Linked DNA regions of Homo sapiens. The protein of the gene in region 1 binds, or shares a complex with, the protein of each later gene. Each region holds a gene or a part of one and is shown on either strand. Other genes may lie near its edges.

Evidence for each region.
Region 2: the proteins of LARP4B (region 1) and PABPC1 are in contact, whole or in part, in a crystal structure (PDB 3PTH), measured with the Homo sapiens proteins. Residues at the interface, in NP_055970.1 of Homo sapiens: Leu56, Asn57, Pro58, Asn59, Ala60, Glu61, Val62, Trp63; in NP_001425211.1 of Homo sapiens: Gln560, Gly563, Glu564, Phe567, Gly579, Lys580, Thr582, Gly583, Met584, Leu585, Leu586, Glu587, Ile588, Lys606, Glu609, Ala610, Val613, Leu614, His617.

Annotation. Positions count from the first base shown.
Region 1 is NC_000010.11:918,803-930,292, reverse strand, and holds part of LARP4B (la-related protein 4B), read left to right. Parts: intron 1-1,628; exon of another isoform or gene 1,629-11,490. UniProt on the Homo sapiens protein: Stimulates mRNA translation.
Region 2 is NC_000008.11:100,716,761-100,729,116, forward strand, and holds the start of PABPC1 (polyadenylate-binding protein 1), read right to left. Parts: upstream 5,329-12,356; 5' UTR 4,824-5,328; coding exon 4,631-4,823; intron 1,521-4,630; coding exon 1,327-1,520; intron 1,129-1,326; coding exon 1,013-1,128; intron 1-1,012. UniProt on the Homo sapiens protein: Binds the poly(A) tail of mRNA, including that of its own transcript, and regulates processes of mRNA metabolism such as pre-mRNA splicing and mRNA stability.

The DNA.
Region 1 (11,490 bases):
AGAGATGAGAGCAACTCCAAGGTGAACATTGAAGGGGACAGACAAGTTATTTTCCCTTTCGAAAGTTTTTTTCTCTTAGTTTCAGTTGTTTGAATATTTAAATGCACTTGAAATAGGTGCTGAGTTGTAGTTTGTGAAGACCACAGTGGGGAAGAGTGGTGTCCTCTTTTTTCTTGGTGGTCAGGTGGTGTGTGCAGTGTGCAATTTCCATACTTCCCCAACCTGCCTGGCGCCCCTCATTACAGTCAGGGTAATTTACAGAAGTTGAAATCGTTGTGGCTTTTCAGTTTTTTCTCCTTGTATTTAATATGCTGAAAGGCAGTTTTGTAATCAAACCATATAAGAAATAGCTTAATTGAGGTTTGCTAAGTGAAATGCGTTCCGAAAGGCATCAGATTAACAAGCTTATTATTTAATCATAAATTTAATTTGTGTACTTATCTTTGAAACTTGCATTGGTTAGAAATAAATTTTATCCGGTATTTTGAAAAGTTAATGTGAGTTGAGTTGACTTATTTATATGAAACAAAGGCATGGCTTATTCATTAGAAGTTACCCTCGTGTTGCCTACATTTTCTCAATTGTAACAGGGGGATGATGATAATCTCATTTTCTTAGGACTGTTGTAACACAAACATGGAAATGTTGTCTGGTTTTGCTATTTTCACTATTACTGATTTTTTTCTTCCCCCCCCGAGTTGGAGTCTTGTTCTGTCACCCAGGATGGAGTGCAGTGACACGATCTCAACTCACTACAACCTCCACCTCCTAGGTCTTCAAGTTATTCTCCTGCCTCAGCCCCCCGAGTAGCTGGGATTTACAGGCACATGCCACCACACCTGGCTAATTTTTGTATTTTTAGTAGAGACGGGGTTTCAGCATGTTGCCCAGGCTGGTCTCGAACTCCTGGCCTCAAGTGATCCACCTGCCTTGGCCTCTCAAAGTGTTGGGATTACAGGAGTGAGCCACTGCGCCCAGCTTACTGAATTTTTAAAATATTCTACCTTGTAGCTGTCAATCTATTAGCAGAAAGTTTTGTTTTTGTTTTTGTTTTTTTGTTTTGTTTTTTTTGGCTTGTTTACACATGTATCTGGGCAGAGAAAACAGCTTCTGAGCACAGAATGCATATTTGGAGAAAGCAGTTCCACTCTTTTTGAGTAGGAACCAGACAGAAAAAAAGATAACATGGGTACTATTCTGTAGAAGAGTAGCTGAAATTAAGTGGCAGCAAATTCAGGGAGAAATGTAATTTGGTTTAATGTTCGGGAAGATTGCCATTTTTAAAAGTGAGATTTAAAGAATTTATTGAATTTAATGCAATTTCCATAAGTAAGCACAAGTTTTGACAAGTATATATTTAAGGTGTTTTTATGAAGCAGTCTTCACATTATCTTAAAATGTAGTTCTAAAATACGTGCAGGCTGGGTGAGGTGGCTCATTCCTGTAATCCCAGCACTTTGGGAGGCCTAGGTGAGTTTAGGAGCCCAGGAGTTCACCAGCCTGGGCAACATAGAGAGACCTCATCTCTACCAAAAAATCAAAAAATTAGCCAGGCATGGTGGCTCACACCTGTAGTCCAGCTGTTGGAGAAGCTGAAGTGGGAAGATCGCTTGAGCTTGGGAGGTTGAGGCTGCAGTGAGCCATGATCCTGCCACTGCACTCCATCCTGGACAACAGTGAGACCTTGTCTCCCCCCACCCCCAAAACATGCAAATTGGGACATCAAATTGTTAATGGTGTTTACAATGAACAGTGCCTTCAGGTAGCTGCAGCTACTCTACATAGATTTGCAAGTTTTTGTAGTGATAGGCTATGGTAGATGTTACCAGCCAAGGAGTGGCTGACAAACTCCTTTCACTGTTATTTCATTGTCATGTTAAAATTCATATTTTCCGTCAAAATAGTGATAGCTAGGATTATAATCTAGGTCTTCTAATCTTAGTAACGTGTTGTCTATGTTAGGGCCTCTCAAAGTTGTAAAAAAGCTGTATAGATGTGTTACCATCAATCGATTTCATTTGTTTTTATCCTAGTGTTAAAGGTACAAGTTTTTTTTTTTTTTTCTTTCCTGAGGCGGACTTTCACTCTTGTCGCCCAAGCTGGAGTGCAATGGTGCGTTCTTGGCTCACTGCATCCTCCGCCTCTCGGGTTCAGGTGATTCTCCTGCCTCAGCCTCCCGAGTAGCTGGGATTACAGGTGCCCTCCACCACACCTGGCTAATTTTTTTTTTTTTTGTATTTTTAGTAGAGTTGGGATTTCACCATGTTGGCCAGGCTGGTCTTGAACTCCTGACCGCAGGTGATTCGCCCGCCTCGGCCTCCCAAAGTGCTGGGATTGCAGGCGTGAGCCACGGCGTACCTGGCCAAAGGTACAAGTTTTAAATATGCTTTTATCATGCATACAGTACTCTTATAGATTCTGTCAGATTTAGGGATATTCTTTTCAGATTGATAAATTGCACAAAAATCTTGGAGTATATTCTTGTAATTTCTTCTACAAAATTCTCAAAACAACCTTTTTCCAATGGGGAGAAGACATGAACACTGAAGTCATGTTTTTGGAAAATACCTTGTTAAAAACAGACACTGCTGTAAGGGTTTCCTTGCTTATGCTCTTTTGTAGAACTTTATTGATGTGAAGAGTTCTCCTTTTTCTGTAAAAGCTTATTTTAGAGTACGAAGTAAATGAGGCACTCAGAGAGTTAACCTCATCAGGTCTGAGTTTAGTTCAGTTTAAACTTTTTGCTCTTATGCTGGTTGATATCTTTGTAACTACTCTACTTCTAGAGTTATTTTGATTGGAAAATGAATTCCTTTTTTAGAACATGGAATTGTAAGGTAGAAAACTGCTAGGTTCTCAAAAGAAGGGAGATAAATTCCAACTTGAAAGTTTTTTCCCCTAACGTTCTAATGCTTTGTTTTTCCTGTGTGTAAATGCCTTCCTTAGGAACAAGGAAAATTATTAACTCAGCTGTGTTTCCTTCCCTTCTCTTTCTCACTGCCCCCCCGCCACCCCATACCTTAATACCTTTTGTCCCTTCAATGCCTTTATAAACTCTGTCTTCTCATAGTTTTTCTGGTGAAGCTGTCATGGCTCCTATTTCAACCATAAAGGATTTGCAGTTCAGTGATGCTACTGGTTTTACATCTTCTTTCCCATCAACCCCATTGCCCTGGTTAGGAGACCTAGACCATGGAGTACATTGCAATATTGAAAGTATTTCATGTTTAACACAATTTTTTTTTTTTTTTTTGAGACCGAGTCTCGTTCTGTTGCCCAGGCTGGAGCGCACTGGCACGATCACGGCTCACTGCAACCTCTGCCTCCAGGGTTTAAGCGATTCCCCTGCCTCAGCCTCCTGAGTAGCTGGGACTACATACAGGTGCGTGCCACCACGCCCGGCTAATTTTTGTACTTTAGTACAAATTGGGTTTCACTGTGTTGGCCAGGCTGGTCTTGAACTTCTGACCTCAAGTGACCCATCTGCCTTGGCCTCCCAGAGTGCTGGGATTACAGGCGTGAGCCACTGCGCCCGGCCATGTTTAACACAAATTTGAAAGCGTACTGCTTAGTTTTTTAGGGGGAGTATGATAATCATAGAGATGAGACTTGATCTTTGCTGAAAGTGTTCTTTATGAAGTCTGATGTGCATAAATTTGCCCAATAAAATGCTCTTTTATTTACACAAATCATTTTAGTCGCACTGTAGCCAGAGTGTGGCATAGCCTGATGGCTGGCCTCTTTTCAGAAACTCATCAGGACTGCCCTAGGCCTCGCCCTGTGTGTGCTTCCACTTCTGTGTCTTCCTTCTTGCCCTGCCCCACCTTTTAATCAGGACCACGCCTCCCTCTCCTACCTTGGTGTTGCAAACGTTGTAGCCATTGCTGTTGGTAGATTCTTTGACTGAAATTGAATGTCCACCTCCTTTAAAAAAATTTTTAAAATATTTACTTAGCTCCTTAAACCATCCTTAAAAAGATATTTTAGGAGTCCTCCAGACTGCTTTGCATTAACTTCTGAGATTATGCTTCTCTGTTTCTGTAGCAACTAAGTGTACCTTTGTGTTACTTAGCACATAATTAATGTAAGCTCCTTGTGAGTGAGATTCTCTTTTTATGCTTGTCACCTCTGCCCAGCCCAGGGACTGGTAAACTGTAGATGTTTAGTGAAAGTAATTCAAGTAAAGAGATAAGAATGCTCAAAGACATCTCCCACCTGTGTTCCAGAGAAATTGTTTGCTGATTGTATACTTGCACATTTCTGTAAACAAATAGGAAAATCTTTACTCAAAAAGCATACATTAGAAAGTTTCTTATAGAGTATAAAAGTTATATTTACAAGTTTTTAACTGACTTTTCATAGCTACATTTAGCGCATAAAGTATTTTCAGATAGAGTAATTTAGCCACATGACCTTTAAATTATACTGTTTCTCAGTCTTTAAAAACGTGCCCTCTTTCGGCCAGGCACTTTGATTCACGCCTGTAATCCCAGCACTCTGGGAGGCCGAGGCGGGTGGATCACCTGAGGTTAGGAGTTCGAGACCAGCCTGGCCAACATGGTGAAAACCTGTCTGTACTAAAAATACAAAAATTAGCCAGGCGTGGTGGTGCGTGCTCGTAATCCCAGCTACTTGGGAGGCTGAGGCGGGAGAATTGCTTAAACCCGGGAGGCAGAGGTTGCAGTGATCTGAGATCACACCACTGCACTCCAGCCTGGGCGACAGAGTGAGGCTCTGTCTGAAAAAAAATGAAATAAAATAAAATAAATGCCCCCTTTTAGATAGCCATAGAATTTCTTACCTTTATTTTGCTTTAAAATAAAAACATCATGTTAACCCAAAATGAAACAATTGCAATATTGAAAATGTATCTTTTAAACTTTAGTGGATGTTTTTCCATTTTTTATTTTCTGTTAAGTATTGCTAAAGGGCCTGGCATAAAGGAGGGCCACTGAGATTACGGTAAGAAAAGGGTTCATTTTCTTCCTGTGGCAGGTGTTCTGACCAGTTGAACACTAGGGATGCAAAGATGAAAGGCAACAGGATTTTTCTGTAAGGCCCGTCATCCAGCAGGAATAGGAAAGTGCATTGTTCTATGTAAAGCCATAGAGACTGGCCTCTGGAAGTGGCTGGCTCTCAGCTGCATGCTTCTTTGGATAGTCTGCTACAACAGTCACATATATTATGGTGTATCCTGCCCTGCACTCTCCTTGTCTCCCCTTCTTGCTGTACTTTTTTCATAGTATTTATGACACTATAACATACCATATAATTTACTTACTAATTTATGTATGGCCCGTCTTCTCATACTTGAATGTAAACTCTTATGAGATCAAGATTTATATTTTGCTCCTCAGTATGAACCTAAGCCTTAGAACAATATCTGGTAGGTAGCATGCGCTAAATAGTTGATGAGTAGATCCCAGTATGGTGAACAAGAGGGATAGATTGCCATCTCTTGGAGTTTGGTGTCCATTGAGACAGGTGGACAATCACATAATCCAATAAGAAAGTGCAGTGCACTGACATCCGGCCTGGATGGGAGGGATCAGAAGGCTTCCCTGAGGTTGTGATGGTGGCACCGAGGTTGGAGGGATGGTGGTGGAGTGAGAGGTCAGCAGAGAGAATTACCTGTGTAGTGCCCCAAGTGGGAAAGGTGCAGAGTGCTTTGAAGGAACTAGTGTGAACAAGGCTGAAGGAAGAGAACGCGGCTGGGAGGTAGGTGGAGAGTTTTATTTTACAGAGCTTGGGAGGTCCCATATAGGTTGATTATTTTGCCCTTTATCCTAAGACCAGTGGGAAGCAGTTGGAGGATTTTATGTCATAGAATTGTCTTTTTTAAATGATTCTGCTTTGCAGAGTCGTGTGGAAGCAGGGAGTGGTCACATGTGGGTGTTACTGGGCGGCAAGGTAGGGAATCTCTTTCTTCTTGTGTACACCTCTCTTCATAGTTGAAAAGGCCAAGCCCCAGTCTAAATGAGACCAGCCAGCTTCCTTAAAATCCCTTTAATTTGTATTACATATAATCGTGTATGTTTAAAAAATATTTTATTTTTTTGAGACAGTTTGTGTCACCCAGGCTGGAGTCCAGTGGCATGCTCACAGCTCTCTGCAGCCTCGACCTGGGCTTGAGCGATCTTGCCACCTTAGCCTCCCGAGTAGCTGGGACCCATGGGTGCATGCCACCACACCTGGCTAATTAAAAAAAAAATTTTTTTTTGTAGAGGTGGCGGGTCTCACTATGTTGCCCAGTCTGGTCTCGAATTCCTGGGTTCAAGCAGTCCCAGAGTGTTGGGATTACAGATGTGAGCCATTGCACCTGGCCTAAAAATGCTTTAAAATTTGTTTATAAAATATGTCTTAAATTTGCTAATATTTGCCAGTTGTTTAAAGTATATTTGTTATTTCAGATAATTTCAAACATGCCTTTTTTAGGAGTGTCTCTGAAAAATGAGAACATTTTGTTTTCACATTTCAGAGAGCTTTGTTTTTATTGTCAGTGCTCAAAATACAGAGATGAAAACCTAGTGATCAATTTGGTATAGATGTACAAATTGCTTCAGTTATTGTTATCTGTTAACATGTTGAACATTCTCTTTTTAAAAATATCAGGTCCTTTAAAATTTTCTTTAAAGGTGGCTTCATGCTTTTCTGAGCATTCTTTTTATCTTTGTTGATTACATATTTGTATTTCATTGTTGAGATTATCGTCTGTGTAATTTTTGCCTTATCAGTCAGAGAATACCAGTAACCTTTAGGAGGCATGTACAGATTTTTTTTTTTTTTTTTACTGGGTCCATAAAGGGGGAAAGTTTGGTCAGGTTGGGGAGCAGTCACACTTCTTCCTGAGAGGTAGTAAATACCAGGCTCTCCATCTGGAGGAGGGGTCAGTAAATCACGTTTGCAAAGGAAAAGATGCGGTAATTGGTAGGATTCAGACCTGTGCCGGGAAACCCCAATGGATTTCTAGTTCATTGCTTTAACCATTCAGTCCTGACTTTAAAAGTAGACTTGAAGTCCCTATGGGAAGCTACCTTCTAAAAATCTAGACATTTGAAAGGATGAAAGCATTGTCTCTTGTGCTTTTAGGAGGTTAAAAACATTTAAACCACGGATAGAACACTGGCATTTAGTGTTTCTTGAGTACTGTAAATACAGTAGCTTACTGTGAAAGTCTTTTTGGGTGGACTTCTGTCTGGCATGATTTGTTTTTTTTTTTGAGGTGGAGTCTCACCTGTTTCCCAGGCTGGAGTGCAGTGGCACAGTCTCCGCTCACTGGAAGTTCTGCCTCCCAGGTTCACGCCATTCTCCTGCCTCAGCCTCCCAAGTAACTGGGACTGCAGGCGTGTGCCACCACGCCCAGCTGATTTCTTTGTATTTTTAGTAGAGACGGGGTTTCACCATGTTAGCCAGGATGGACTCAATCTCCTGACCTCAAGCAATCTGCCTGCCTTGGCCTCCCAAAGTGTTGGGATTACAGGCGTGAGCCACTGTGCCCGGCCTGCGTAGCATGATTTTAAGTTCTATGTTCCATATTCCTCTGTGGTTAATATCCATACCTCCAGTGATACTTGTTATTTATTTATTTATTTATTTATTTATTTATTTATTTATTTAACAGACGGGGTCTCGTTCTGTTGCCCAGGCTGCAGGAGTGGAGTGTAGTGGTGTGGCCACTGCTCACTGCAGCCTCCAATTTCTGAGCTCCAGTGATCCTCCTGGCTATTTAAATAATAATTTTTTGAGACATGAGGTCTTGCCATGTCACCCAGGCTGGCCTCAGTCTCCTGGCCTCAAGTGATCCTCCAGCCTCAGCCTCCCAGGTTGCTGGGAATATGAGTGTGAGCCCCTGTGCCTTGCTCCATTGACAGTTGTTACCAGGCTAAATTGCTAGTTCAGGTTGCCTTTCAGTGGGTCACTTGGAGCAGGGGTCCCTAACTCCCAGGTTGTCCGACCCGTACCCATCATGGCCTGGTAGGAACTGCGCTGCACAGCAGGAGGTGAGCAGCAGGGTGAGTGAGCATTACTGCCTGAGCTCCACCTCCTCTCAGATGAGCAGTTGCGCTAGATTCTCATAAGAGCTCAAATCCTACTGTGCACTGCACATGCAAGGGATCTAGGTCGCATGCTCCTTATGAGAATCTAGTGCCTGATGATCTGAGGTGGAACAGTTTCATCCTGAAAGCATCCTCCTCACCACCCCCCACCCCCTGACCCCTCCGCTCTGTCTGTGGAAAAATTGTCTTGCATGAAACCTGTCAGTCCCTGGTGCCAAAAAAGATTGGTTACCGCTGACTTGGAGTACTGACCATTGTGAAAATGAGTAACTGATGAATCAGCAATAGTTGCTTCTTCACGCTGTCAGTGAAGACCAAAGAATGAATATGGGAAGCAGTATTACCAGTGTTGCTGCGTGTGCACGTGGCCTTCAGTTTTTCCCTGCTCTTCCCATTTCTTTGTACACACCGATGAATTTAATCTCTTCTGCTGAAATCATTATTCTTTAGGGCTCAGTACAGGAGAGTTAAACCTAAGCATGAAAGGACTGGAAATGGGATGTAGAATTGCCAAATAAACTGTAGAAGCATTGAGGCACTTAAAAATCTCCATGACCTGGAGAAATTCCAGTGAAGAGTAAACTTTTGCAGTGTGCCTTAGGATTCCGAGTGACCACAAGTTTTATTATCTTTCAGGCAAGGCCACACAGATTCTTGGCATACTATTTCCTGTAAGTTCAGAATTTTGGAAGTGTGTTGGTCATTGTGGTAGTCCTCCCCCTCCCCGCGTCCCCCTGCCAACCTTACAGGAAAGAAAGAAGTGGTAGTTTTATTCTGTTATTGAGAATAGGTTTTTCATGAAATCACATGAAGTTACAGCTCAACATAAATAACTGTAGACTAGATGTTTTCCCAAAATCGTTATATGGCCACAAATTGTGTTAGATAATTATATGAGCAAGGCAAATAAATGCTGGATCATTAACTTCCAGTTTTCTTTCTTTCTTTTTCTTTTTTTTTTTGAGATGGAGTTTCACTCTTGTTGCCCAGGCTGGAGTGCAATGGTGCGATCTCGGCTCACTGCAACCTCCACCTCCTGGGTTCAAGCGATTCTCCTGCCCCAGCCTCCTGAGTAGCTGGGATTACAGGCATGCACCACCACGCCTGGCTAGTTTTGTATTTTTAGTAGAGACAGGGTTTCTCCATGTTGGTCAGGCTGCTCTCGAACTCCCCACCTCAGGTGATCCGCCTGCCTTGGCCTCCCAAAGTGCTGGGATTACAGGTGTGAGCCACCATGCCTGACCCTTAACTTCCAGTTTTCAATTTGATGTTGGGAAGTGTGGTTAGGTAAATTTATTGTAAAGCATATATTTACGAAATGTTTAATAATAATAATAGTGAACATAACATTTAATCAGCCTTAACCCAGTTGCATGGAGTGTTTTCTTTTTATCAGTTCCATCGTTATCAGTCTGGAATTAAAAGACTGAAGGAACCTTTAATTCTTTTTAATTCCTTTTTTTTGAGACAGAGTCTCACTTTGTCCCCCAGGCTGAAGTGCAGTGGCTGTATCTTGGCTCACTGCAATCATCACCTCCTGGGTTCAAGTGATTCTCGTGCTTCAACCTCCAGAGTAGCCAGGACTACAGGCACGTCACCATGCCCAGCTTATTTTTATAGTTTTAGTAGAGACAGGGTTTCTCCATATTGGCCAGGCTGGTCTGCAACTCCTGGCCTCAAGTGATCTGCCTGCCTTGGCCTCCCAAAGTGCTGGGATTACAGGCCTGAGCCACTGTGTCTGGCCTGATTAATTCTTAATTCATAAAATGTTAGGTGTGAATTAAATAGTACTTTTGAAGTAAGATGTTTATATTCTAAGACTGTGAGTTTTGTTCTACGTTATTTTGTCAACTGAGATTTGGTAACTAGTTTGTGAAAATAATTGTCAGAAAAACAGTGTAATATTGCAGTTGCAGTCTTAGGATTTTAGATCTCTGAAGACTCAGAAACTGAAGCCCATGAGGTAAAATTAATTAGAGATACAGCTGGCTAGTTGGTGACAGAGCTAGGACTGTAACGAGCCTCCTCTTTAAGTCCAGCATCCCGTTGCACTGTAATTGCAGAGTTTACTGTGGTCGCTGTTAAGGCGCACCCTCCGCTGTGGTATATCAAAAGAAATTGGTGAAAGCATTAATTTTATGTATGTTAGATAATTTAAATAAGTGTTTTAACTTTTTGAGGTAGATTTTTAAAGCAGTTATTAGACTGTGCTTTTTAAAAGATTGAAATATATTTACTCCAGGAAAATTAAGTGTTTTGTCATTTTAGATAATCCATTAACCTTAATCCAAATAGGGAGGTGCTAATTGGTGTTCTGGTTAACACCCTCCGGTTTGTATCGTGTAATCAGACTGCAGCTTACAGTTCATCTTTGAGAAATAGTCTAAGAGAAATTCATGTAAATTAAATGGTTTTCTTCCTAAAGCATTCAGGGAGAGTTGTTCATTTTAACGTCCACGCTGTTAACACAGGAGTCTGTGTGCAGTCTTGGATCCAACTTCAACACCTGTGTTCATACCCGTCACCTTTGTGTAGAGGAACTCACACTAGAGATAATGTGACTTGCTGTGAGCTCTCCTGGCCTTTGGTTTACTGTCCTCAGGCAACTGTGGTGTGTGTCAGGATCTTTCACACTATCTTACACTCTTAAGAAACTACAGCAAATTGCAACAACTCCCACCCTCAACAATGTATTGGACTTGTAATTCAGAGGATTGAAAGCCCCCTCCCTTTTTTCCCCCCATTTATTCTTCAGAACACTTGTTTTACTGTTTGGGAAACTGAGTCTTGGTGACAGTTTGCTTTACATCATCCAATACAGGAAGAACAGAAAATGGGAACTTTATAGCTTCTTGCTTATAAGCCTTTTGCGTGGCAGGAGAGAATTCTACCACTGAACGACCCATGCACCGATGCTTATAAGCCTTTTGCAAGTAATACCCAGCTCTTAGAGAGGGTCAGCGTTCTGTGCAGCACCTTGGATCCAAATAACATGATGTATTTGGGGGCTTAAGTCACACATCATAGTTCAGCATCAGAGATACAGGCCCTGTACTTAATAGTTTAATAACTTAATTATTTAAATATTTAATAGTTGAATAATTACTGTTAAACAAAGTATTAATAGTAATTTTCATTGTGGTTATCTTTTTTTTGAGACGGAGTCTCACTCAGTTGCCCAGGCTGGAGTGCAGTGGCTTGATCTCCGCTCACTGCAAACTCCGCCTCTCGGGTTCACGCCATTCTCCTGCCTCAGCCTCCCTAGTAGCTGGGACTACAGGCGCCCGCCACCACGCCCAGCTAATTTTTTTGTATTTTTTTTTATTAGAGATGGGGTTTCACCGTGTTAGCCAGGATGGTTGCGATCTCCTGACCTCGTGATCCACCCACCTCGGCCTCCCAAAGTGCTGGGATTACAGGCGTGAGCCACCGC
Region 2 (12,356 bases), on another chromosome or scaffold:
ACAACACACTACAGCCTTGGCTCAAGCATCCTGCCTCAGCTTCCCAGTGGCTGGGAATAAAGGCACACTGCAGTAAAGCTGAAACTTTATGAAAGACACTTTGTGTATTTCTTCTTAGGACAGTTACAAATTTCCAAAAGAGTTATATCACTTTTACTCAAAACAGCAACATATCATTCTTTTCTGGATCCTGCCAGTGTTGGGCTTGCTTTTTTTTCCTCCTAAAGCCCTGGTAACAGGCATTTGTGAGTATTTATTTATTTTTTTTAAAGACAGTTTCAATCTTGTCGCCCAGACTGGAGTACAATGGCGAAATCTCGGTTCACTGCAACCTCCGCCTCCCGGGTTTAAGTGATTCTCCTGCCTCAGCCTCCCGAGTAGCTAGGATTACAGGCATGCGCCACCATGCCCAGCTAATTTTGTATTTTTAGTAGAGACGGTTTCTCCATGTTGGTCAGGCTGGTCTCAAACTCCCAACCTCAGGTGATCCGCCCACCTCGGCCTCCCAAAGTGCTGGGATTTACAGGCATGAGCCACCGCGCCCGGACTTGTGAGTAATGTATGTCTCTCATTTTACAGTACATAAAAGCAAATTACTTTGAGTTTCCTCACCTATAAAATGGGTTAATTTAACCAGTACCTCAAGAATTATGAATATTAGGTTTGTCTGAATTCCTGATTTTTCACTAATGCACTCATTTTGAAAAAGCTACATTTTTCTGTTTACTTATCTTCTGTTTTCCTTTTGGCATGAATGTTAATTATATTAAACCTGTTATTTGTATGTTACACTTACTGTGTAGAAAATTCAATTGTAAAAATCAAGATTAGCTTATTAATTTTCACTCCAGTACAACTACATGAATTTTTGTTATTCATCTTTAAAATGTTTTTATTCTTTTATCTTATGTGCATCTAACTTCTCCCTGACAAATATTAACTTAAAATGAATGGATTTGGAATTATTAAAAATAAGATTCAAAATATGATTAGCTAGATATTTATAACTTACACTTTGCGATCATTTAGGAGCATTCCATTCATTTTTTCAATAGCTCTTTCAGCTGCTTCCTGCGTCTCAAAGTGTACAAATCCATAGCCCTTGGAACCATTTTCATCACAAACCACCTAGGGAAAAACATATACCCATTTTTCTTTATTTGCTATTGATTTAACATTTGTTCAGTGTTGAGAGACAATCTGTTAGCCATCTAACCTGGATATTTGTGAAATAAAGATATCCATTACTGCACAGTTCCTATTTCAAGCACTAAACTAAATGTAGCTCAACAATGTAAACATGTGTATCGGACATTTTTGGCTTACCTTACATGAAAGGATGTTACCAAAAGCAGAAAATGTATCATACAGTGCTTTATTATCAATGGATTTGTCCAGATTTTTAATGAATATGTTGCCTACTCCACTTTTGCGAAGTGATGGATCACGCTGAGACCACATGATGCGTACTGGCTTGCCCTTTATAACATCAAAATTCATGGTGTCCAAAGCACGCTCCGCTGCAGGAAGGACATTTTCAGAGTCAATATTACTTCAAAATTTTTGCTGGCTACTTAAGATTATATAAACTATGGTGACTGGAGTGGGAGGACACATGGTCTCACAGTTGAACGCTTCCTCTTTAAGCTTCAAGATGGCTAGACCTTTCAAGTATCACACACTAGTGTGGGACCTAAGTTGTATAAAGCAAAGACAAATACCAGAAGCCCCCGAAATTTCTCACATATAAAAGAATTCCATATTGCTAATAATTAATAAATTCTTGACGCAATCTCTCGCCTTAATTGCCATTAAATCTAAAGCACTTTTTTTCCTAGTTATCAAAATCCAAATTCCTTCACATACAATCTGTTTAATAAGCAGTATAAAAGACATTACGCAACAGATTTATCTACAAGCTGGAAGTAGTTTATAGATTTAAATATTTTAACTTCTTCCCAACTACTTGCTAAAATTGGTCATTTCATTGCTAATAACTAACAATATTATATGAAAACTAGTCCATTTCCTAAAAAATGAAAGTTTCTTAATTATTGGGGGGAGGGAGGGTTTCAGTGATTCATGGCACAACTTCCATTTAAGAAAATGAAAGGCTAGACCAAGATTTGAATCATGCTTTCAAAAGCTAATGTGAAGTTAGACATATTTGGTTTCATAATCACAGAATTTTAAAAACACCAGGTCTGCAATATTCAGAAATCACCATTAACGCTCTCTTGACACATACAATCAATTTCACTTTAGATCGCTGATTTTCTTAACAACTGATTTAGTTATTTCTGAATACTGCTAGAAAATTTCAAAATCTACAATTAATTTCAGGATCTATAAAGGATTGAATTATGTATACCTGTACCATTAAAGGCTCTAAATGAAATAACACATCCTTAAATAAAAAGACTAGTCCCCGAAGAGAGGGAAAACGGTCCCTTTTAAGCCCTGAAACAATTCCTACAAATTCCATGCCAATGTAAATTTAAAAGTTATTGACAGGATGAATTTTCCGGCCACCTCTTTTTTTATAAATGAAAGTTCCAGTTTCTAGAATATAGTGATAATCAGCTGTTAGCTCATTATCAATTGACCACACCTACTCAGCTTCCCTAGTTTTTTTTTTTTTTTAGCTGACTTTGCTTGAGCTATTTTTCAATGAGTCACCTCTTCCTATGAAATTGAAAACTGGTCACTTTCAGAAGCTATTCTGCCTATCAATGTAGCAATAAGTTTTTAAAAAAGAACAAGAAATCCACTTAAGTAATTAATTGGATAGTAAATTGTACATACAGAAACTAGACAAATGGAAAACTGCCATATTCTTTTCAGTAGTTAGGGTACTGGTCTACTGGTACAGACTGATAATATATACTGTACACTGTAACCACGGCAACCTGAAGTTCAACTCTTCGAATCCCAAGAAATGTAAAAATTGTTTTTTGGATTTAAAAACGTTAAGCTGAGAAAGAGTAACACTTTCAAGTTTTCATTTTGTGGTCTCTAGAATTCATTCCCATGTTTTCTCCACCAACTCTTAGGTTGTGATAACCTGCCCCAAAGTTATCTACCCCCATCTGACATGCATTGATACATCCTGCCTAAGGTTGACAAGAACTGTTATGAAGTGACATTTGGAGTTACTGCTTACAGAGCAAAAGGGCAGGAAACCTGCAGTGCAGTTTTACAACTTCTGGCTCTGTGTCACTCAATATTCTGCTTCCAAAATCAGTATCAACTTTACACAGTGAAGAGCTGATCAGTAACCTAAGTTCTACTGAATGAATGTTAATAGGAGCTTAAATTCCACCCTTAAGGCCTTTTCTAATAAAAATGAATTCTTCATATTTCGATTATTTGACATGTATTCAAGTGGCCAGCCTGTAGGGGGGGAAAAAGGCAAAATTGGGCCGTAAAATGGAATTAAGCTGACTTCTCAAAGCCAATTGATCTAAAGACAAATCCTAGCAACTCAACAGACCACAGATATTATCTGTTTACAAAATTGTGTTTCTGTTAACTGTTTAGCTTCAAAATAAAAGCACAAAGTTAGCTGCATTTCCCCCATAAATTTCAAGCTCAATTTAATCTCCGTTATTTTGTACTCAGTCATTTCCCAAGATTTACAGGTATCATGGGCCACTTTTAAAAATAAAAGAGAAACTTGAACTTCTTGCATGCTACAGATAAGACTGGTCCAGTTGGAATTACACTAAAGTAACATTTTATAGCCAAAGTTGACTATTTTATAAAGAAAAGCCCCTCAAAACGACAGGAACTATTTCAGAAGGTAACATAATATACTCGAAAACCACCAGTACTGTGAATCTAAGATAAAATTTGACTAAAAATGGTCTAAGTTGCCTGAGAAAACTGGCCTTCAAAGTGGTCGGCTGCCACATCCCCTCCTCCCACTCTGCCCTTTTAATGTTAGAGAAATGCTTGATCTAGGGGAAACCCCAAATGCATGTCTCCGGTAAATTCCATTCCTAGATCCATCAGTCACTGATGAGTTCTGGGAAGTGGACTCACAAGCCTGAGGACCACCACCACACCACACATCGCCACAGGAACTTTATCCTAAGGCCTGGTGGCTCCCCCAGGCGACTGGGCCAGGAGCAGGAGCAGAAGCAGGCCTCGGGCCTGCGAGGTTACAGGGTTCAACACGTGGTATTTTTCGAGCACAGAACTGCACTTCCTCCCCAGGCTGGGGCGCCGGCAGGAGCTCCGGGTGGTGGGAGCGCCTCCACCTCTTACCCACGGAAGGAGCTCAGCGTTCAACGCCCCAGAATCCCGGGGCCACTGGCGGGAGCGCCGCGGAGGAACCGAATCTCACCCACCCTCCCGGCGCGTCATCACCCTAAAGTTTGAGAGCGTCTGAGGCCGAGAAAATGGTCGCAAAGGAGGAAGTAGCCGGGCGTGTGGCTGCCGGCAGCGCGGGTCCCCGCCGGCTCGGGAAACGCGGCTCCAGGGACCCCGGCGCCTTCCCGCCGGCCGTCGCGGGGTGACATGCCCTCCCGCCCCCCTCCCCGGGCCCGCCGGCCTACCCCGCCCGCCGCCGCCGCCCGAGCCTCATGGCCGCCCGCCCGCCCGGCCGACCGCGGAGCCCGGCGCTCACCGTCCGCCGGCTGCTGGAAGTTCACATACGCGTAGCCCAAGGAGCGGCGGGTGATCATGTCCCTGCAGACCCGGATGGAGAGGATGGGCCCGGCCGGGCTGAACTTCTCGTAGAGCATCGCCTCGGTCACGTCGGGGTGGAGGTCCCCCACGTAGAGCGAGGCCATGGGGTAGCTGGGGGCACTGGGGTTCATCTCGGCACGGCTGCCCGCAGGGCCACAGGCCGCGACCTTTCCGTGAGAGGAGGAGAGCGAGTGCCGGGGCTGGGGGCCGGAGCCGGGGGGAGGGGAGCGGGGAGCAAGCGCAGAGGGACAAAAATCAACCGGAATTGAAAACTACTCAACGGCCGCAGAACGGGGTCGATCCACTGCCGCTGGCTGCCGGCTGCCGGCGGGGAGCGAGGGTGGCGGTGTCGGGTCCGGGCAGCGGGAAGGCCTCGGTCTCTTGGTTCCTTCTTGGAGCTGCTGCGGGGCCGCGGGCGGGCGGGTCGGTCTCGGCTGCTTCACCGGGTTATTTTATAAAAGAGGAAGAAAAAAAATAAAAGTCTCCGGCGGGGGAGACGCGGATTTTTTGTAAATTTTTTTGGGGTTTTTTAAAAGATTTTTTTAGATTTTTTTTGGATTTTTTAATAATAAATGTGTGTTCCGAGCCCGGAGCACACACTCCGCACTCTCAGCACTAACCGCCGGGGAGAAGGGGAAGCACCGCCTCCTGCACCCTCTACTTATACCCCGCGCCGCACTCGCCCCGCCCCCGCGCGTCTGACGCCAGGGCCCCTACGCGAGCGTCAGCGCCGGAGTAGGAGGAGACGCGGAGGCCAGGGGGAGGAGGGAAGAGAAAACAGGAGGAAAGAGCAGAGAGGAAGGGAGAGGTGGCGGCGGTGGAGGCTGCGGTGTGGGGGTGGGGCTCGGGCGAAGGGGCGGGGCTTTTGCGCAGGCGCCGCGGCCGGGGAAGCGGAGCCCGCGCTGCGTCGCGTCCGTGGGGGTGGGGAGGACGGCTCGCGGGCGGTCCTCGGGGGTGTTGGCTGAGGCGTCCCCGCCTTCCGCCCCGCCCGCCCCTGCCTCCACCAGGAGGAGCGTTAACCCGTCACCGCGGCGGTGGGCGGTGCAAAGGGCTTCCGGGTTCCTCCGCGCTAACCACCCCCCACGTGCGCGGCCGCCTGTGGCCTCTTCCCGCTGCGGCCGGCCCGGCTCCTCTAGCCCCAGCTCCGGGGGACGCCGGGCACGGGTGAGCGGGCGTGGTCCCCTCCGGGCCCGGTTTCCGAAACGTGCGTAGATGGAGCCAGCGTGGCCCCCTGCTCTCTCCTACCCGGACCGCACTACGAGTCCCAGCCGGCACCGCCGCCACGCGCGTCGGCCGCAGAAGCGGTGCCTGCTGGGAGCTGGAGTCCCCAACGGCCGCGGCGCTCGCTGACACCAACTGGCTGCGCGGGTCCTGGCCGCCCGCTCCGGGACCCCCCAACCGTCCTGCGCGCTGGACCCCGGCACCGCTGGAGCTCCCGGCGCGGGGTTGGGGGGCAGGGAGAGAGAGGGGAGGGCCCCTCGGGTTCCTCGTCCTCTTCTTTTCCAGCCCGACCCTCCTCCGTGTCTTCACTGGACGTTGTCGTTGGTCAAAGTGGCTTTAATTTGGGATAGCTGTGTTGGGGGTCTTTGGTCACTTCTTACCTTAAGGTGCTAGGCTGGAATCATTGATTTGTGCTGCTTCTGCCAGACATTTCTTGGCGATAGAAACCAGGAGTGGAGAAAAGTGAATGTTTTTCCTGAAAGTACGGGTTTGTCACAATCACTACTATATGGCACCACAGCCCTGCAACCAGACAAAATTAGGAATAGTCTAAAACAACGTCCTTATAAATAACTAAAACAATTCTGCACATTAGTAGTGGGTTTTAATAGGAATGCTAAATTTAACGAATTGATAGTAATAAAAACCGGCTCTAGGAATGACATTAAATCAACATACAAATTCCACTCGAAAGTAGTAAAGTGCTTTTACAGTTTTTAAAGCACTCGCGTAAACATACTATCATTTGTTCCTGAGAGCAATCTGGTGTGGGAGGTGGAGCAAGTAGTAATAATTTTACTTTACTGTTACAGGAACAGTCTCAAAGAAGTTAAATGATTGCCCAATTTATTCCTTAATTCAATAAACTTTAATGGATGTCAACTGTATTGCTAGGTGTGGAATTAAGTACTTTATATCTTGTCTCATTTAATTAGAATTTAAACCAGTGGAATCCCACATAAATACTATTTTGCTCCTATTAAAAAGAGGATAAAATGTGACCGGGCGCGGTGGCTCACTCCTGTAATTCCAGCACTTTGGGAGGCTGACGCACGCTGATCACTTGAGGTCAGGAGTTCGAGACCAGCCTGGCCAACATGGTGAAACCCCGTCTCTACTAAAAATACAAAAAGTAGCCAGGCGCGGTGGCTCACGCCTGTAATCCCAGCACTTTGAGAAGCCAAGGGGGGCAGATCACGAGGTCAAGAGATCGAGACCATCCTGGCCAACATGGTGAAACCCCGTCTCTACTAAAAATACAAAAATTAGCTGGGCGTGGTGGCGCGCGCCTATAGTCCCAGCTACTCGGGAGCCTGAGGCAGGAGAATCGCTTGAACCCGGGAGGCGGAGGTTGCAGTGAGCCAGGATTGCGTCACTGCACTCCAGCCTGGTGACAGAACGAGACTCAAATAAATAAAAAATAAACAGTTGTTAGGCTTCCAGGGCAGCTTGACAGGCAGTGATGCCCTGGATGGTAAATGGAAGCATTCTCATCACTAGAAAAGTATATTAGTGCTTTGTAGGTGAATACATAGTTTGGGAAGGGAGCCAGTCATCAGGACGTCTATGCAGCTGTGGCTCTTGCACTTAGTAGATGTCATTGTCATATTTTATGGAGGTACAGTTGAGTATGTGCAAGGGAAAGTAGAAGCAAAGTCCATACCTGAGGACAAGGAGCTGCTATTTAATAGAATAGGAGAGAGAGTCAGAGCCCAGGAGGAAACAGGAGTGGGATCTGGAACTGAAACCAAGAACCTGTTCCCTTGATCCATCAATCACCTCTTTTTATTTCCAGCCAGCTGCTTTCGCTCAGATCAGAAACTGGTCAATTCAGATCAAAAAGAAAACAAACCAATCTTCTCTTAATGACATATTCCTCTCTCATTCACTTTTTTTTCATAGCCAAGCTTTTCATTTCTGCTTTCTCTCTCCTTAGTTCCTCAACACTACCGTATGACTTCCAGCTGCACTCAAATTGCCCCATCAACAGTTGCCAATGATCCCTGTTCTATTTGACAAATCCAATGGACTTTCTTCAGGTCCATTTTACTGGACATCTGCAGAGTTTGACACTGTTTTCCTCCCTCTCTTTTGTCACACACTCTCTTGGCGTCTGGGCTACACTTTCCTGGTTCTGCCTCTCAGATTCTTCCTCCTCTCCGCCAGTAACTTACCATTCCCTGACCACCAGGTAGGATTGGGCACCCTTCCTTTGGTTTTTCCCCTGCCCCCCGCCAACCCTGCCACTACATTTACTACGTTATATCAAAATAGTGTGTTTATGAGCGATCTCCCAAAATAAGTTGTAAGCGCCAAAAGAAGGCTTATGTCATGTTTATCTGCATCCCAACCATCTACCGTGAAGCCTGGCACACTGAGGGTGTATTTTTTCTTTTTAAACCTAACTTCAGGGAGAGGGCCAGCTAGGCCTTGTAGACTGACCATATAGGATGAGGGTTAGTTGGGAGGTCTCAACCTGATGGTCACATGGGCACCTAGGGCCGTGTTCACCTCCAGACTGCTTGGCCTGCTGCAGCATGTTACCTCTCAGCTCCACAAGCTGTTTCGGGGAGCGCTTCCTGACATGCTGGTTGGGCTCTCATTTCTAGTGCTGGAAGTAGTGGACTTTTAGTACCCCAAATCAGGCAAGCAGGGACAAGCAAGGACTCCTGGACAACAGGAGTTTCTGGACCTCCAAAGCTGAGGACGCTGTATGGTGGTAATCCCACTAATGTTCTGAGACCCCTTTTTGATGTTAGCAGTCTGATTGCTTGTGATAGAGGTAATTAAGGCTACGAATAAAAGGCAGAAGATGAAATATTTGTTGATTCCTTTTGCCTTTTTGATTCACTACTCTCATTTTTCTCTCCTATCATTTTTTTTTGTCTTAAAAAATGTGCTGTCTATGTTTATCTGGCTTGCCTGTGTTTATCTAATTTTAGATTGCAAGCTGTGGGACAGAATAATGTCTTTATATGTGCAGCATCTCACTGTGGGTGCCTAAGAATATCTAATGACATTAAAGTCATTCAATTAACCTGTTTTTATTTAATGAGTAAACTGTAAAGTTCTCCAGAGAGCTTATTCACTTGAACTTCACTAGCAATTTATAAGTAATTTTCAGGTTATATCCAGGATACATTCAGAATATATCCAGGATAATTTATAGTATCTTGTGTAATGTATGTAAGATAACCTGGCCTTTTAAGATCTTTAGGTAATATAGAGAGATTTATTTGAAATGGATAATAAGTGTATTCGTTGAGAACAGATCCCTCTCAATTGAAGGGGTATACTTTCTGTAGATCCTTGAAATAGAAAAAATATTATATGATGTCTGTGATAAAATCAAAACTATGCAATGTTTCAGAAGATGAGCTTCCCACTTAATTGGTTTGCCAGGTTGGTGAGGAACATAACACCTACTCAGATTTGCAAATTGTCATGCCCATGATCAGAGGAATTCCTATAATGAGACTCACTTAGAGTTTATGTTTTCTTCCATACGCATTGCATATTTTTCTCATACCAACCAAGAATGAAGAAAGGAATTTATATGAGTTTGAAATGGGGTCCTGTTTCTAGATTGTGTGTCAGATGTTGTAAGCTGACATTAGTTCTGAGAAAATGGCGAGCAATCAGACTGCTAACATCAAAGAGGGGATCTCAGAACATTAGTAGGATCACTGCCATACAGCGTCCTCAGCTTTGGAGGTCCAGAACCTCCTGTTGTCCAGAAGTCCTTGCTTGTCCCTGCTTGCCTGACTTTGGGTACCAAAAGTCCGCTACTTCCAAGCTCAGCACTAGAAATGAGAACCCAGCCAGCGTGTCAGGAAACGCTCCCTGAAAGAGCTCCTGGAGTTTAGAGCTAACATGCTGTGGCAGGATCAAGGGTCATAAGGTCAAGGGTCATAAACACAGACTCAGAAACACAGAAACAATAATGGGAAAAAAATGTAGTTAGTGATTTTGTTGTAGAAGACAATAAGAGAAATCTCAAAATACTAAGGTTTGTTACAAGGTGCTTTTCTAATGGCATAGCCATCTATGTTAAACCAGTGTAGTTGTTATAATGATTGTTCAATATAACAGGGATACTACGACCAGGCACGGTGGCTCACGCCTGTAATTCCAGCACTTTGGGAGGCCAAGATCGGCAGATCACAAGGTCAGGAGTTCGAGACCAGCCTGGCCAACATGGTGAAACCCTGTCTCTACTAAAAATACAAAAAATTAGCCAAGCGTGGTGGCGTGCGCCTGTAATCCCAGCTACTCAGAAGGCTGAGGCATGAAAATCGCTTGAACCCGGAAGGTGGAGGTTGCAGTGAGCTGAGATTGCACCACTGTGCTTCAGCCTGGGACAGAGCAAGACTCTGTCTCAAAACAAAAACAAAAACAAAAAAAAAAACAAAACAAAACAGGGATACTACTACCTTCCTAATAGGATTCTTGTAAGACTTGAGTAAAATATTATGTGTAAACTTCTTTTTTTTTTTTTTTGAGACAGTCTTGCCCCATCCCCCAGGCTGAAGTGCAGTGGCACGATCTCTGCTCACTGCAACCTCCGCCTCCTGGGTTCAGGTGATTCTCCTGCTTCACCCTCCCAAATAGCTGGGATTACAGGCACATACCACCAAGCCTGGCTCATTTTTGTATTTTTAGTAGAGACGGGGTTTCTCCATGTTGGCCAGGCTGGTCTTGAACTCCTGACCTCAGGTGATCCACTAGCCTCGGCCCTCAAAAGTGCTGGGATTACAGGCGTGAACCACCACACCTAGCCTATATGTAAATTTTAATAGCATAATGTACAGCGCTACCACTTATCGAATACCTCTTATCTCTCTCTATTACCACACATCAATTGATTTGGTAGATACCAAGTTCAAATGTGTGACAGAAGTATTAAGCAGAGACATACACAGGAGGCTGGGGAGGGGCAAAAATAAAAATAAAAGAGACATACACATGCAGACACATGAAAGAGATACAACTGTTACTGTCCTAAACTAATTTAGAGAACAGAAAAATGCAATGACCCCATTGAGACAATATTAAATATTAGATGCATAACAAAAAAACTCCCAAGAGGGGTCACAGTGAGAATATTCTTGCAATGGGTCATATTCTAGGACCACTGTTCTTAAGGCACAAATACTTTAAGAACATAGGTTAAGATGTAAAGTATTTGGGGCTGGGCACGGTCACTCATGCCTGTAATTCCAGCACTTTGGGAGGCCGAGGCGGGCAGATCACTTGAGGTCAGGAGTTTGAGACCAGCCTGGCCAGCATGGTAAAACCCCATCTCTACTAAAAATACAAAACTTAATTGGGCATGGTGGTGCATACCTGTAATCCCAGCTACTTGGGAGGCTGAGGCAGGAGAATTGCTTAAACCTGGGAGGCGGAGGTTGCAGTGAGCTGAGATCACGCCACTGTGCTCCAGCCTAGGCGACAAAGGCAGTGAGCTGAGATCACGCCGCTGTGCTCCAGCCTGGGTGACGAAGCTAGACTCCATCTCAAAAAAAAAAAAAAGATATAAAGTATTTGGCCAGGCACGGGCATGGTGGCTGGCTCACACCTGTGAACCCAGCACTTTGGGAGGCCGAGGTGGCACAATTGCTTGAGGCCAGGAGCTTAAGACCAGCCTGGGTAGCACAGTGAGACCTCATCTCTACAAAGTTAAAACAAAACAAAACAAAACAAAGCCAGGTGCGGTGGTGTGCATTTGTGGTCCCCACTACTGGGAGGCTGAGGCAAGAGGATCACTTGAGCCAGGGAGGTTGAGGCTGCGGTGAGCTGTGATTGTACCACTACACTCCAGCCTGGGTGACAGAGGGAGACCCTGTCTCTAAACAAACAACAAAAAGATATAAAGAAGGACAAAAATACTTTTCAGGTAAATAGAAGAAATTTTAATTTTATTAAGAGCTAATATTAATGGAGCATGGATATTTATTGAACCTGGATAATTTTCTTTTTTCTTTCTTTTTTTTTTTTTTTTGAGACGGAGTCTCACTCTAGTTGCCCAGGCTGGAGTGCAATGGCACAATCTCAGCTCACTGCAACCTCTGCCTCCTGGGTTCATGCGATTCTCCTGCCTTAGCCTCCTGAGTAGCTGGTATTACAGGTGGCCACCACCATGCCCAGCTATATTTTTTGTATTTTTAGTAGAGATGGGGTTTCACCATATTGACCAGGTCGGTCTCAAACTCGTGACCTCAGGTAATCCACCCGCCTCAGCCTCCCAAAGTGCTGGGATTACAGGCGTGAGCCACTGCTCCTGGCTGAACCTGGGTAATTTTATTGCCTCCTCACGGAATCCTATCAGGCAGGAAACTACAGTATTGCCAGTGAGGAAACTGAGGCTAAAGTAGTAGAACAACTTTGATTCAAACACAGGCAGTGCAAATTTCAAAGGATCTCTTTGATGTGGGAATGACAGG